Regions from separate parts of the Homo sapiens genome. Here region 1 is linked to region 2. The links come from fine-mapping of genetic effects on gene expression. A gene starts in region 2. The other region holds a variant in brackets. All regions are shown on one strand. Distances are between the middles of the regions.

The links. PIP is the estimated chance that this variant, and not a neighbour inherited with it, causes the effect. A credible set is the group of variants that fine-mapping cannot tell apart.
Region 1: its variant is the best candidate, but not a certain one, in a credible set for the expression of BICD2 in whole blood (INTERVAL, PIP 0.81).

The regions. Positions count from the first base shown.
Region 1 is chr9:92,732,491-92,737,858 of GRCh38, forward strand. The region is part of intron 1 of BICD2 (BICD cargo adaptor 2); the gene reads right to left. Among named protein-coding and RNA genes, the nearest start is that of BICD2, 30 kb to the right of the region's middle. RefSeq lists an enhancer at 2,258-2,857. The variant C/T (reference allele first, on the strand shown) is at 2,564.
Region 2 is chr9:92,762,014-92,767,381 of GRCh38, forward strand. It overlaps BICD2 (BICD cargo adaptor 2), which reads right to left and starts at 2,820. Exons shown (of 7, transcript NM_001003800.2): 1 at 2,492-2,820. The coding sequence starts at 2,731. RefSeq lists an enhancer at 788-947 and silencers at 2,771-3,510, 4,363-4,412.

The sequences.
Region 1 (5,368 bases), 30 kb before region 2:
ACAAGAAATATGAAGCAAACTACACCAAGGCATAATATAAAATTGTTTAAAACCAATTATATAATAAAAATATTTAAATCAGCCAGAAGAAAAAGGATACATGACTCAAGAGGAGCAAAGATAAATGACAGCTGATTTCTCTAACAAGCCAGGAGATAGTGGAACAACATCTTTTAAACAACAAAACAAAAAAACTTAACTAGAATGCTATACTCACTGAAAACTGTTCACAAATAGAGGTGAAATACTTTAGAGATACAAAAGCTGAAAGAATTTATCAACAGCAGATATGCATTGGTATTTAAAGATATGCTAAATAAAATCCTTCAGGCAGAAGAAAAATAATACCATATGGAAATCTTTATCTACATGGAAGAAATGATAATTAAATAGGCAAATATAAAGTACTTATTTTTCTTATTTAAATCTCTTTAAAAGATAATTAACTTGAAATTCAATGCAATCCCTACCAAAATTCCAAAGCCTTTTTAGCAGAAATGGAAAAGGTGATTTTCAAATTCATATGGAATTGCAAAGGGCCTAGAAGAGCTAAAACAATATTGAAAGGGAATAACAACGTGAGAGAACTCACAATTTCAAAACTTAATACAAAGCTACAGTGATCAAAACAATGTGGTACTAGTGTAAAGATAGATACAGAGACCAACGGGATAGAATAGAGTCCAGAAATAAAACCTCATATATATGGTCAATTGATTTTTGGCAAGGGTACAAAAATAATTTGATGTCAAAGAATAGTTTTTCGGCCAGGCACGGTGGCTCATGCTTGTAATCCCAGCACTTTGGAAGGTCGAGGCGGGCAGATCACGAGGTCAGGAGTTCGAGACCAGCCTGGCCAACATAGTGAAACCTCGTCTCTACTAAAAATAAAAAAAAATTAGCTGGGCGTGGTGGCGGGTGCCTGTAATCCCAGCTTCTTGGGAGGCTGAGGCAGGAGAATGGTTTGAACCCAGGAGGCAGAGGTTGCAGTGAACCGAGATCACGCCACTGTATTCCAACCTGGACGACAGAGGAAAAAAAAAAAAGTTTTTCAACAAATGATGCTGGGGCAAGTAGATACATATATGCAAAATAATGAAGCTGAACCCCTACCTCACATTATACACAAAAATTAACTCAAAATGAATCAAATACCTAAATATAAGAACTAAAACTATAAAACTTTCAGAAGATAGGCTGGGTGCGGTGGCTCATGCTTGTAATCCCAGCACTTCGGGAGGCCGAGGCGGGCAGATCACGAGGTCAGGAGATCGAGACCATCCTGGCTAACACAGTGAAACCCCGTCTCTACTAAAAATACAAAAAATTAGCCAGGCGTGGCGGCGGGCGCCCGTAGTCCCAGCTACTGGGGAGGCTGAGGCAGGAGAATGGCGTGAACCCGGGAGGCGGAGCTTGCAGTGAGCTGAGATCGTGCCACTGCACTCCAGCCTGGGCAACAGAGCAAGACTCCGTCTTAAAAAAAAAAAAGCTCAAACCAGAGTTCCCAAGTATCTGTCATCAGGAGAAAGATAAACAGTGACTATGTAACTATTTACATAATACTATATAGAAATGAAAAATGAATAAACTACTGCTATACAGATAACAGAGATGAATCTAACAATGTTGAGTGAAAAAAGCCACACACAAAAGAGTATATGTTGTGCGATTCTGTTTATATATAAACTTCCATGAATAAGTGAAGTTAATCTATGCTGTTAGAAGTTAGCATAGTTGGCAGCTGGGCACAGTGGCTCATGCCTGTAATCCCAGCAATGTGGGAGGCCAAGGCAAGCAGATCACTTGAGGCCAGGAGTTCGAGACCATCCTGGCCAACATGGTGAAAACCCGTCTCTACTAAAAATACAAAAATTAGCCAGGTGTGGTGGCATGCACCTGTAATTCCCAAGCTACTTGGGAGGCTGATGCACAAGAATCCTTTGAACCTGGGAAGCGGAGGTTCCAGTGAGTCATGATCGCACCACTGTACTCCAGCCTGGGTGATAGAGCTAGACCCTGTCTCAAAAAAAAAAAAAAAAAAGAGAGAAGACAAAATCCACCTCCCCCACCCCCAACCCAGGACAGCTGGAGTTACTCCCTCCTCCCCCTCCCACAGGCTGTTTGCCCCATCTTGTCTCCTCAGGAGGAAGCACTGGTCCAGGAGTGCAATTAAGCACTAAGAAGAGCACTGGAGTTCACCATCTGATTAAGGGGTCGCCAGCCGTGGGCTTGTCCTTGCAGCTTCCTTCCCCTGCCTCACTGTGGGCCTCCTAGGCTGGTGCCCTGCAGGGTATGATCCCCTGCCCACCCACAGGAGGGCTCTCTGCCCAACCTACCATCAGGATCCAGTCTGGGAAGGGGATCCCAGATGTGCCCTCCATCCCACCCGTGCCCACAACTTCTCCAGCTGCTCTGGGGAACAAAAGGGACACACAGGTGGAAGGCCCAAGTTCCTACCCTCCTGGCCCATAAGACTAGGCTCATCTGGGCTTTGAGGAGGAAGCAGCACCTTGGTGATAACCCCCAAGGGGCTGCCCTGGCTATGGGCGAACACTGTGCTTGA[C/T]ACAAGCTCCCGGCTCACTCTCTACCCACTGCTCTGAAGCTGCCTAGGCCCAGCAGGATCTAACACACTGGGTGAGCCTGGGTGTGAGGTCACCACCAGCCAGGCGCCTTGGGGAGAATCCTTGCTTTTGGCCAACACATGACCGCCAAGAATGCTGTCTTCAGGTTTGTCCACACCCATGTGACTATAGCACAATCATCTGTGCCTAAGGGGAGCCAGGACCAGACACCATTAGGGAGGCCAGGTCCTGCACAGTGGCATGGCCTCGGGACAGGCTGCAGGACAGACGCTGGGTCTATCAAAAGTGGGGATGGGCGGGGTAAGCTCTGGCCAGGAGGGAGAAATCACAGGGGCTCAGGGAAGGGATTTCAAAAACCACATGGGGTGGGAAGGCCAGCCTCATCTGAGGGAATAGCACGAGCAATGACATGGGGGCAGGAGGTCCCAGGGACTCTCTGTGAAGCATTAGGAGCCACCCTGAGGTCAGTGGGGAGTTTGAAGACAATGGAGAGGGCTTGGGGAGGAAGGGCAGCTGCAACCAGACCCCAGGGCTTTGTCAAGCAGAGGACGAAATGGGGAGTTGAGGGCAAGTCGGGGCAGGGAGGGGCAGGCCTGGGGGCCTGTGAAGCAAACAGCACCTGACCTCTGCGAGTGCCTCATCTCTGTTATCTCCCTGTCCTCATCCACGAGCATGGCAGAAACAGTAATGGCCTGCTGTTCACGGGCACACAGCACACTGGGTCTGGAGTCACTGGGACCTTGCTCACTCAGGCCCTAAGTCTCATTCTAAGAGTCCCATGGGGACAAGAGGCTGCCGGTCCCTGTCAGGGCAGTGCAGGCTCTGGGTGGCCCCTCTTCATTCACCGTAAGGGCTCAGGTGAACTGCCCACATCCAGACTCCATCCTTAAAGGACAGCAGCACCCATTAGCTGTGGAACTGATCATGTGACTCTGTCAGAGGCGTTTGAACCAGAACAACTCCATCTTGAATAGGGACTGGGTAAAATGAGGCTGAGATCTACTGGGCTACATTCCAGGAAGACAGGCATTCTTAGTCACAGGATGTGATAGGAGGTTGGCACAAGATACAGGTCATAAAGACATAAAACAGGCTGCAGTAATTACTGATAAAACACTAACTGCTGATAAAACAGGTTGCAGTAATTACTACAAACCCACCAAAACCCAACAAAACCAAGATGGCAAGGAGAGTGATCTCCGGTTGTCCTCACTGCTCATTATATGCTAATTATAATACATTAGCATGTTAAAAGACACTCCCATCAGGACCATGACAGTTTACAGATGCCATGGCCCTGTGATGGCCCCAGTTTACAGATGCCACAGCCCGAGGTACCCACTGTGTAATGTCTGGAAGTTACCTACATGGTCTAAAAAATGGGAGGGACCCTCAGCTCTGGGAACTGTACACCCCTTTCCCAGAAAACTTGTGAATAATCCATCCCTTGTTTAGCATATAATCAAGAAATAACTATAAGTATCCTTAAGCCAGCAGCTCAAGTCACTGTTCTGCCTATGGAGTAGCAATTCTTTATTCCTTTACTTTCTTAATAAACTTGCTTTCGCTTTACTCTATGGACTCGCCTTGAATTCTTTCTTGCGTGAGATTCAAGAACCCTCTCTTGGGATCTGGATCAGCACCACTTTCCAGTAATATCTTCAGCTGCCTCGAACTGAGCACACCCTGTGTGTTAGATTGTTTTAGCAGCTCCATGACCGGAGCCCTGAACATGTTCCCCCTTTACACACACACACAGAGAAACTGAGGCACAACAGAGCTCAATGCTTGCCAAGGGTGCACAGTCTGGCTGTAGCGTGGGATGGTGCAGGGCTGGAGACAGAAGGCTGGCAGAATAGGCCTCAGGATGGAAAACAGGGCAGTAAGGATCCTGTCCAACAGATGAGCCCAGTGCCCCACCCCACCCAAACCCCTAGGAGATAGAGAAGGCAGGCCAGGTCCCAGGGGTACCTGTGAGCACGGGCCCATCTGTGCCCACCACCCCCATCTCAGGGAAGCACAGCCAACATCCCCTGCTAGCACCTCTGAAATAAGCTGCAGGGGCAGGGCTATGTGACTGTGGTGGGCGCCAATCACAATGTGCCTCGATTTCCTCATGTGAAACCTGGGTTAATAATGTCACCAATCTGAGCTTAGTGCTATGGGGATTTAGTCAGTTAACATAATTCACTTACCAGAGCCTATGTGGCCTCCTACTCCACCCACCCCCTGACGATAGGAGCTTTAAAATACAGGTTCAGGGAGTTACTCCTTGTTCTCCTCTCCAGGCATCCCACTGCCTTTCGGATGCCCAAGAAGGAGGCAACTCCTCCAGAGTCAGCATATCTCTGACTCAGGATGTGGTTGAGGCTATTGTCAATGGACCAGTGTTAACATGCTGAGATCCTGACAACCCCAGTGTGGGGCAGCGCGTGGGAGACTGGGTGGCTTTAGAATGAGCCCATACCAGACGCTTAGGCCCTCATCACCCCAAATAGAGGCTGAGATCCAGAAACAGAAGCTGGACGATGAAGGAAGAGTAAAAGATTACGACCAACAACAGGTTACAGTTACCTTTGCGGTTTTCATTCTTTCCTGACGCCAGTACCAGCAAAGCTCCCAGTTATCACCTGGGCACACCCACCACCTTAGAACAACTCTTCAAGTGTTACTTTCTGTGAAAGTAAAACTATACATATAGGCTGGAAGGGCTGAAACCCTGACCTGTGCCTAGTGCAGAGGAGGAAACAGTGGCAGGTGATCAGAGCCTGGGAGGATGGGGAAGT
Region 2 (5,368 bases):
AAACCCACACACTGGGACCAGCAGGCCAGCGTCCTTCCCTCAACGATCCTATTATCTACAAATGCAGGGCAGAAGTACAAGCAACTCCATTTGGAGCACAATTTATTAGTAACTAAATGCACTTTAGTTCAAGAAATAAAGTTTTCTAAAGAATTAAGGCGGTACACCGCTCTACAGGAGAAAAAAAACCCCACAATTATTGACTCCTTAAATCTTGTGGTTTTTTTTAAATGAAGAGTTAATATTTTCAACTATAATACTGGCCATAATTAAATAGGTTAGCAAGAGCCTGTGTTGGCATGGGTGTGAGGAACACGCATGCTGTTGATGGGGGGTGAACTGGTACAAACTTTCTGGCAACATCTACTGAAACTGAAACGCTGATGCACATTCCTCTAGACTCTGCTAGAGACCGAGCAGAAACATTCTTATCCCACCTTACAAAGGAGAACTAGATTCAGAACAGAGCAGTAATTTGTCCAAGGCCATGTGGCCAGTACATGGAAGCCAGGTGGTGACAAAAAACAAGCAAGCAGACGCCTAAAGAGTACCCACAGAAACAGGTATACCCTCTTCCTGATTCTGCTAGGGACTCACCCTCCAGATACATGCCACGAAAATGCCAAGATTCTTCACTGTGCCAAAACGTTTGTGTCAGAATAGCAAAGACCTGACAAATGAAGGGCACCAAAGCGGGGACAAGTTAAGTCAGCGACAATTCCTTCTCACAGAGGACACTGCCAAACCCAAGCTGTGGACAGAGACAGGGACTGTAGAGGCTGCCCAGGAGCGGCTCACGATGCACTTGGTAGGAGGAAGAGGGCTGCTTCACTGTGTGCAGAGGGAAAAGCGCCCTAACAGATAGTGCTGCCTGCTGGAGAGGGTGAGCCCCGCTACAGGAGACCAGAAACTGGCCGAGTCCACTCCCACTCCATATTCTCAGAGCCCCCTGCCTCCCTATCACACGCCCCACCCTAAGATGGGGACTCTTGCAAGAGCAGCTGCATCTCACCCCTCTTGTAGCTCCAGCGCCACTGGAGCATGCATTGCAGAAGGTGCCAATACCTGCTGACAGACAACAGAATCGAGTCCTGAGGGCGATGGGGGAGGACCCAGCTCCTGCTGGCCCAGGGTCAGCCATTGACTGGTACTAACTGAGCACCTGCTCTGCCCAGACATCCAAGCATCTGCTTGGATTCATTCTCTGCTCTCCACAGACGGGTCTCCTCAGACACGGGGGAGGCAAGGAAGGCTGCAAATGATTTAGGCACCTGTCTGGGCTGACTGGGAGCAGAGGTGCCAGGTGATAAGCCTGGAAACCAAGAGCCAAGGGCTCACCAGGACACACTCAAGTGGGGGAAGGGAGCACACCACCAAGCTATACTCCTGACCGCACACCAGTCCTTTCCAAATACATGACCCTCACAACAATCCTTTCTGGGCACGCAGTACTGCACTCCCATTTTGCAGAGGGGGAAACTAAGACTCACGGAGGGCCTCTACCCAAAGCCACATCACTAGCAAGGGGCACAGCCTGGATCCAAACCCTGGTGTATCCTCCCAGAAAGCAATTCCTGCAAACAACGCTATGGAGTCAGGGAACGGGAGAAGAGAAGCTGGGGAAGGACTGTCCAAGACTCCCGCTGCCCTGCCGCCTGGAGACCCTCGACCAGCCTGGTGGTCTAACCTACTCTCCCCCCAGTGGGAATGACACAGACCACTGAGGTCTCCGTCCAAGAGGAACACAGCAAGCCACAGCGAGGGGAAGGGCCCGAGAAGCGGGGCTGGACAGGAAGTGGGCCAGGGAAGTCATGCTAGCTGGTGGGAGCGCAATCCCGGCCATGAGGACACAGCGCTGGGCCTGGGGCAAGGGTACTGGGGGACCCATGCCAGGGGCAACCTCCACGTGCAACCCCGAGCCCCTACTCACTTAGGCCGCTGTCCACGACCTTTCCCCACCTCGGAGGCACTCATGAAAGAAGCAGAAACGCTCCGAAAGTAGCTGCGCCCAGAGAGGGGAAGTGCTTTCTCTGAAGGTGACAGAGCCGCAGCCACCCAGACCCAGGCCCACCCTCGGCCTCTCCCAGCGGGTCACCAGCATCCGTGGCCTCAGCTCCCGGCTCAGCCACTGCCCTCCCAACCCCACCCCACACTCAGACACACCCGGAACAGCGACCACCGCAAAGCATCAGCCCTTACGAAGCCCCGCCCCGCCGGGGCCGCCCAGGTCCGCACAGAAGCAGGCGGGCAGCTGCAGGAGGCGACAAGGCGCCCGGACCCCTGCATTAGCGGCGTCTGCAACGGCCGCGGCACCGGCCTGCTAGCCAAGGCCGGGCCCACTCCCACATACTGCCCGTGCCCCCTCCGCCCCGGCGGCCCACCCCTGCCGGCCCCCGCTTGGCAAGCTGACCTTGGCCGCCCTGGTGCCAGGGACGACGCCCACAGGCCCCGGCGCCGGGCGGGGGTCGCAGGGCAGGGCGGCTCGGCTCACCTCCTTGAGCTGCTCCATCTCGCTGCGGATAGCCTCATAGTCCACCTCGAGCTCCTCGAACTGCAGCTTGAGCTGGTGCTTCTCCTCGAGCACCGCCAGCCCGTACTCGGCCGCCTGGATCTTCTCACGCGTGGTCTCGGCCAGCTCGTGGGACAGCCGCTTCACCTCGGCGCGCAGCCACTCCGGCTGCGCCTCCATCACCAGCCGCGCGTACTCCTCCTCCTCCGACGGCGCCGACATGGTGGCCGAGGGCTGAGCCGGCTCCCACTGAGGCTCTCGCAGGCCGGGCCCTCCTCAGCCGCCGCCGCTGCCGCCGCCGCCGCCGCCCTGCCCCGACGGCCGCCCGCCCGCCCGCGCCGCCGCACGGCTCCTCCCCTCCGGCGCGCGGGGCCCGCTGGGGGCTGGAGTCCTGCCTGCGCTCCGACCACAAGGTCCATCATGCCCGGCGCCCGCCCGGCCCCCGGCTATGATTGGCCCATGCTCTGTGAGGGGCGGGCCCTCGGGCGCAGCCACTGACGCCAATGTGGCCCAGGGGGCTGTGGGGACAGTAGTCCCGCTAGCGCACCGACTACAAAACCCGTCCAGCCCCGCGCCCACCCGTCCCCGTCCGTGATTGGCCTGCGCCGCCAGCGTCGAGCCGGATGTACCGGCGCCTTGCAGTCCCCTGGACGGCGGTCGAGTGGGCGCGGCCCCGCGGCCTTCCCCACACTCAGAGCCGGGGACACTGCTCGGTCGCCGGGCCTCGCGCTCCCCTGTGCCTCTGGCAGCCGGCGGCCACGCGGGGTGGCAAGACGGCTGCCGGGAGAACCCCCAGGGGGAGGCGGGTGCGGGGCGGCAGGACTGGGCTCCCGACCGTGGGACGAACAACGCGGACAGAGCCCGGGAGGCCACGAGCTAGAAGCGCATCCGAGAGCGCGGGTGAACGGCTGCTGCTGGAAACCCGTGGACGGTGTGACGCATGCTCTGTGCAGACGTCTGGGGGCGGGAGGAGGACGGGCCAGCAGGGGGCGCCCAGGGGCCAGCGGGAACCTCAGCACCGCCCCTCAGTCCTTCAAGGTCTATTTCTTGGGAATAAAGACATTTCCATTAATACAGGGTCATAAACGTGGTAAATATAATTGTTGTCTCCGCATCTATTTTTAGGCCTGACTTAAGTTGTTTGAAAGCCAGTCGTACCCTTCGCCTTGGCGTAGGTAACACTTCTCCGTATATGGTGGTGTGTGAGATAACTCGTTTATTCTTTATCTCATTGACCTAAAGCGCAACACACCCCACAGCCGCTGACCGCCATAGCACCTAATGGCCAGTATCAGTGCAGATGAGTTCACCCTTCCCTCGTATTTTCTTTAGCCAGTCCACAGGCCCCAAGGGAAATCCTAAAGGATGATTTCCATGGACCCTAGCACAGCCATAGTCCCTTCCTTCCCACCGTCTCTCACTGCCCCTCTCCATCTGCTTGTCCGCCTCTCTTAGGCATCCCTAACCTCTCCGGAACCTAAGAATAATAAATTCCTTCTGTTTTGTACCTTTTAATTTTACTTTCTCATTGTATCTCACCTGAACCCCACACCCATTCGGTTCTCCTAGAGAGTGGCTATCTTGGCTTATGGTCACTCTCCCTCAAGACCAAATTAGAAAGAAGCCATGACAGCAGAAATCACAGCACACAGGGTACTGACACTATCTAATGCACAGTCCACACTCTAATTGCACGAGGGCCCAACACCATACTGGAGAGTTTCAGTATTGTTTTTGTGGTCCAGGATCCAGTTGCATTCAGTCGTCAGGTTTCCTGAGTCTCCTTTGATTGACCTTTCTGAGGAGTGCAGTGCACACTGGTATATGCTCATGGGGTGATGAGGTGATGCGTTTCTGGCAGGACTGTCACTGAGGTGTTGCTGAGTTTTCAGAGCACCAGCCGGGAGGTATGTGATGTCGATTTGCATTTCTCTGATTGATGCTGGGTTTTTCTTTGGTAATTAGTGTCATGAGTGAAGACTTTGCAACCATAGATATAGCCTATGACTCCTCAAACCTTGACCCACTGGTTTTGGCATTCATGACTACTTCTTGCCTGAAATAATTATTACCATACTGTCTGCTTTTTTTTTTTTTTTTTTTTTTTTTTTTTTGAGACAGAGTCTCGCTCTGTCCCCAGGCTGGAGGGCAGAGATGCAATTTCGGCTCACTGCAACCTCTGCTTCCCGGGTTCAAGTGATTCTGCCTCAGCCTCCCGAGTAGCTGGGACTACAGGCGCATGCCACCATGCCCAGCTAATTTTTTTTTTTTTTTTTTTTTTTTTAGTAGAGAGTGGGTTTCACCATGTTGGCCAGGATGGTCTCGATCTCTTGACCTCGTGATCTGCCTGCCTCGGCCTCCCAAAGTGTTAAGATTACAGGCGTGAGCGACCGCGACCAGCCATACTGGCTGCTTTTCTATTTCCATTAGTCCTTCTCCATTTATGAGTTGCCTTTGTACTGTGAGGCACCTATACCTTCTCATCTATTCCCTTCTCTCTCATTCATTAGCAGTATGGATCCATGGATTCTTATTTTACTCCGTGGGTTACAATCCATTACTTTCCTTACTTGCTTTGATGCTCAAATGGTAGCAGATTTGGCCCGTGGGAGCTCCTCCAAGCTGGCTCCATGTCTTCAAAACATCGTAATTTGTTATTATTGTTATTACTTCCTTGATGTCTGATGCAAATTGTTCCAAGATCATCTTGTGCTCTCCATGTCCCAGACCTGAAATCAGTCATTTCCCCAAGGAGCCCTGATTCTTTTTAGTGTTTTGTTTGTCTGAGGAGAATGTGTCATAGATTGGCTTGTGAAATTAACTAATTTTAAGGAGTTCAGTTGTAGTAGGAATAGGAAG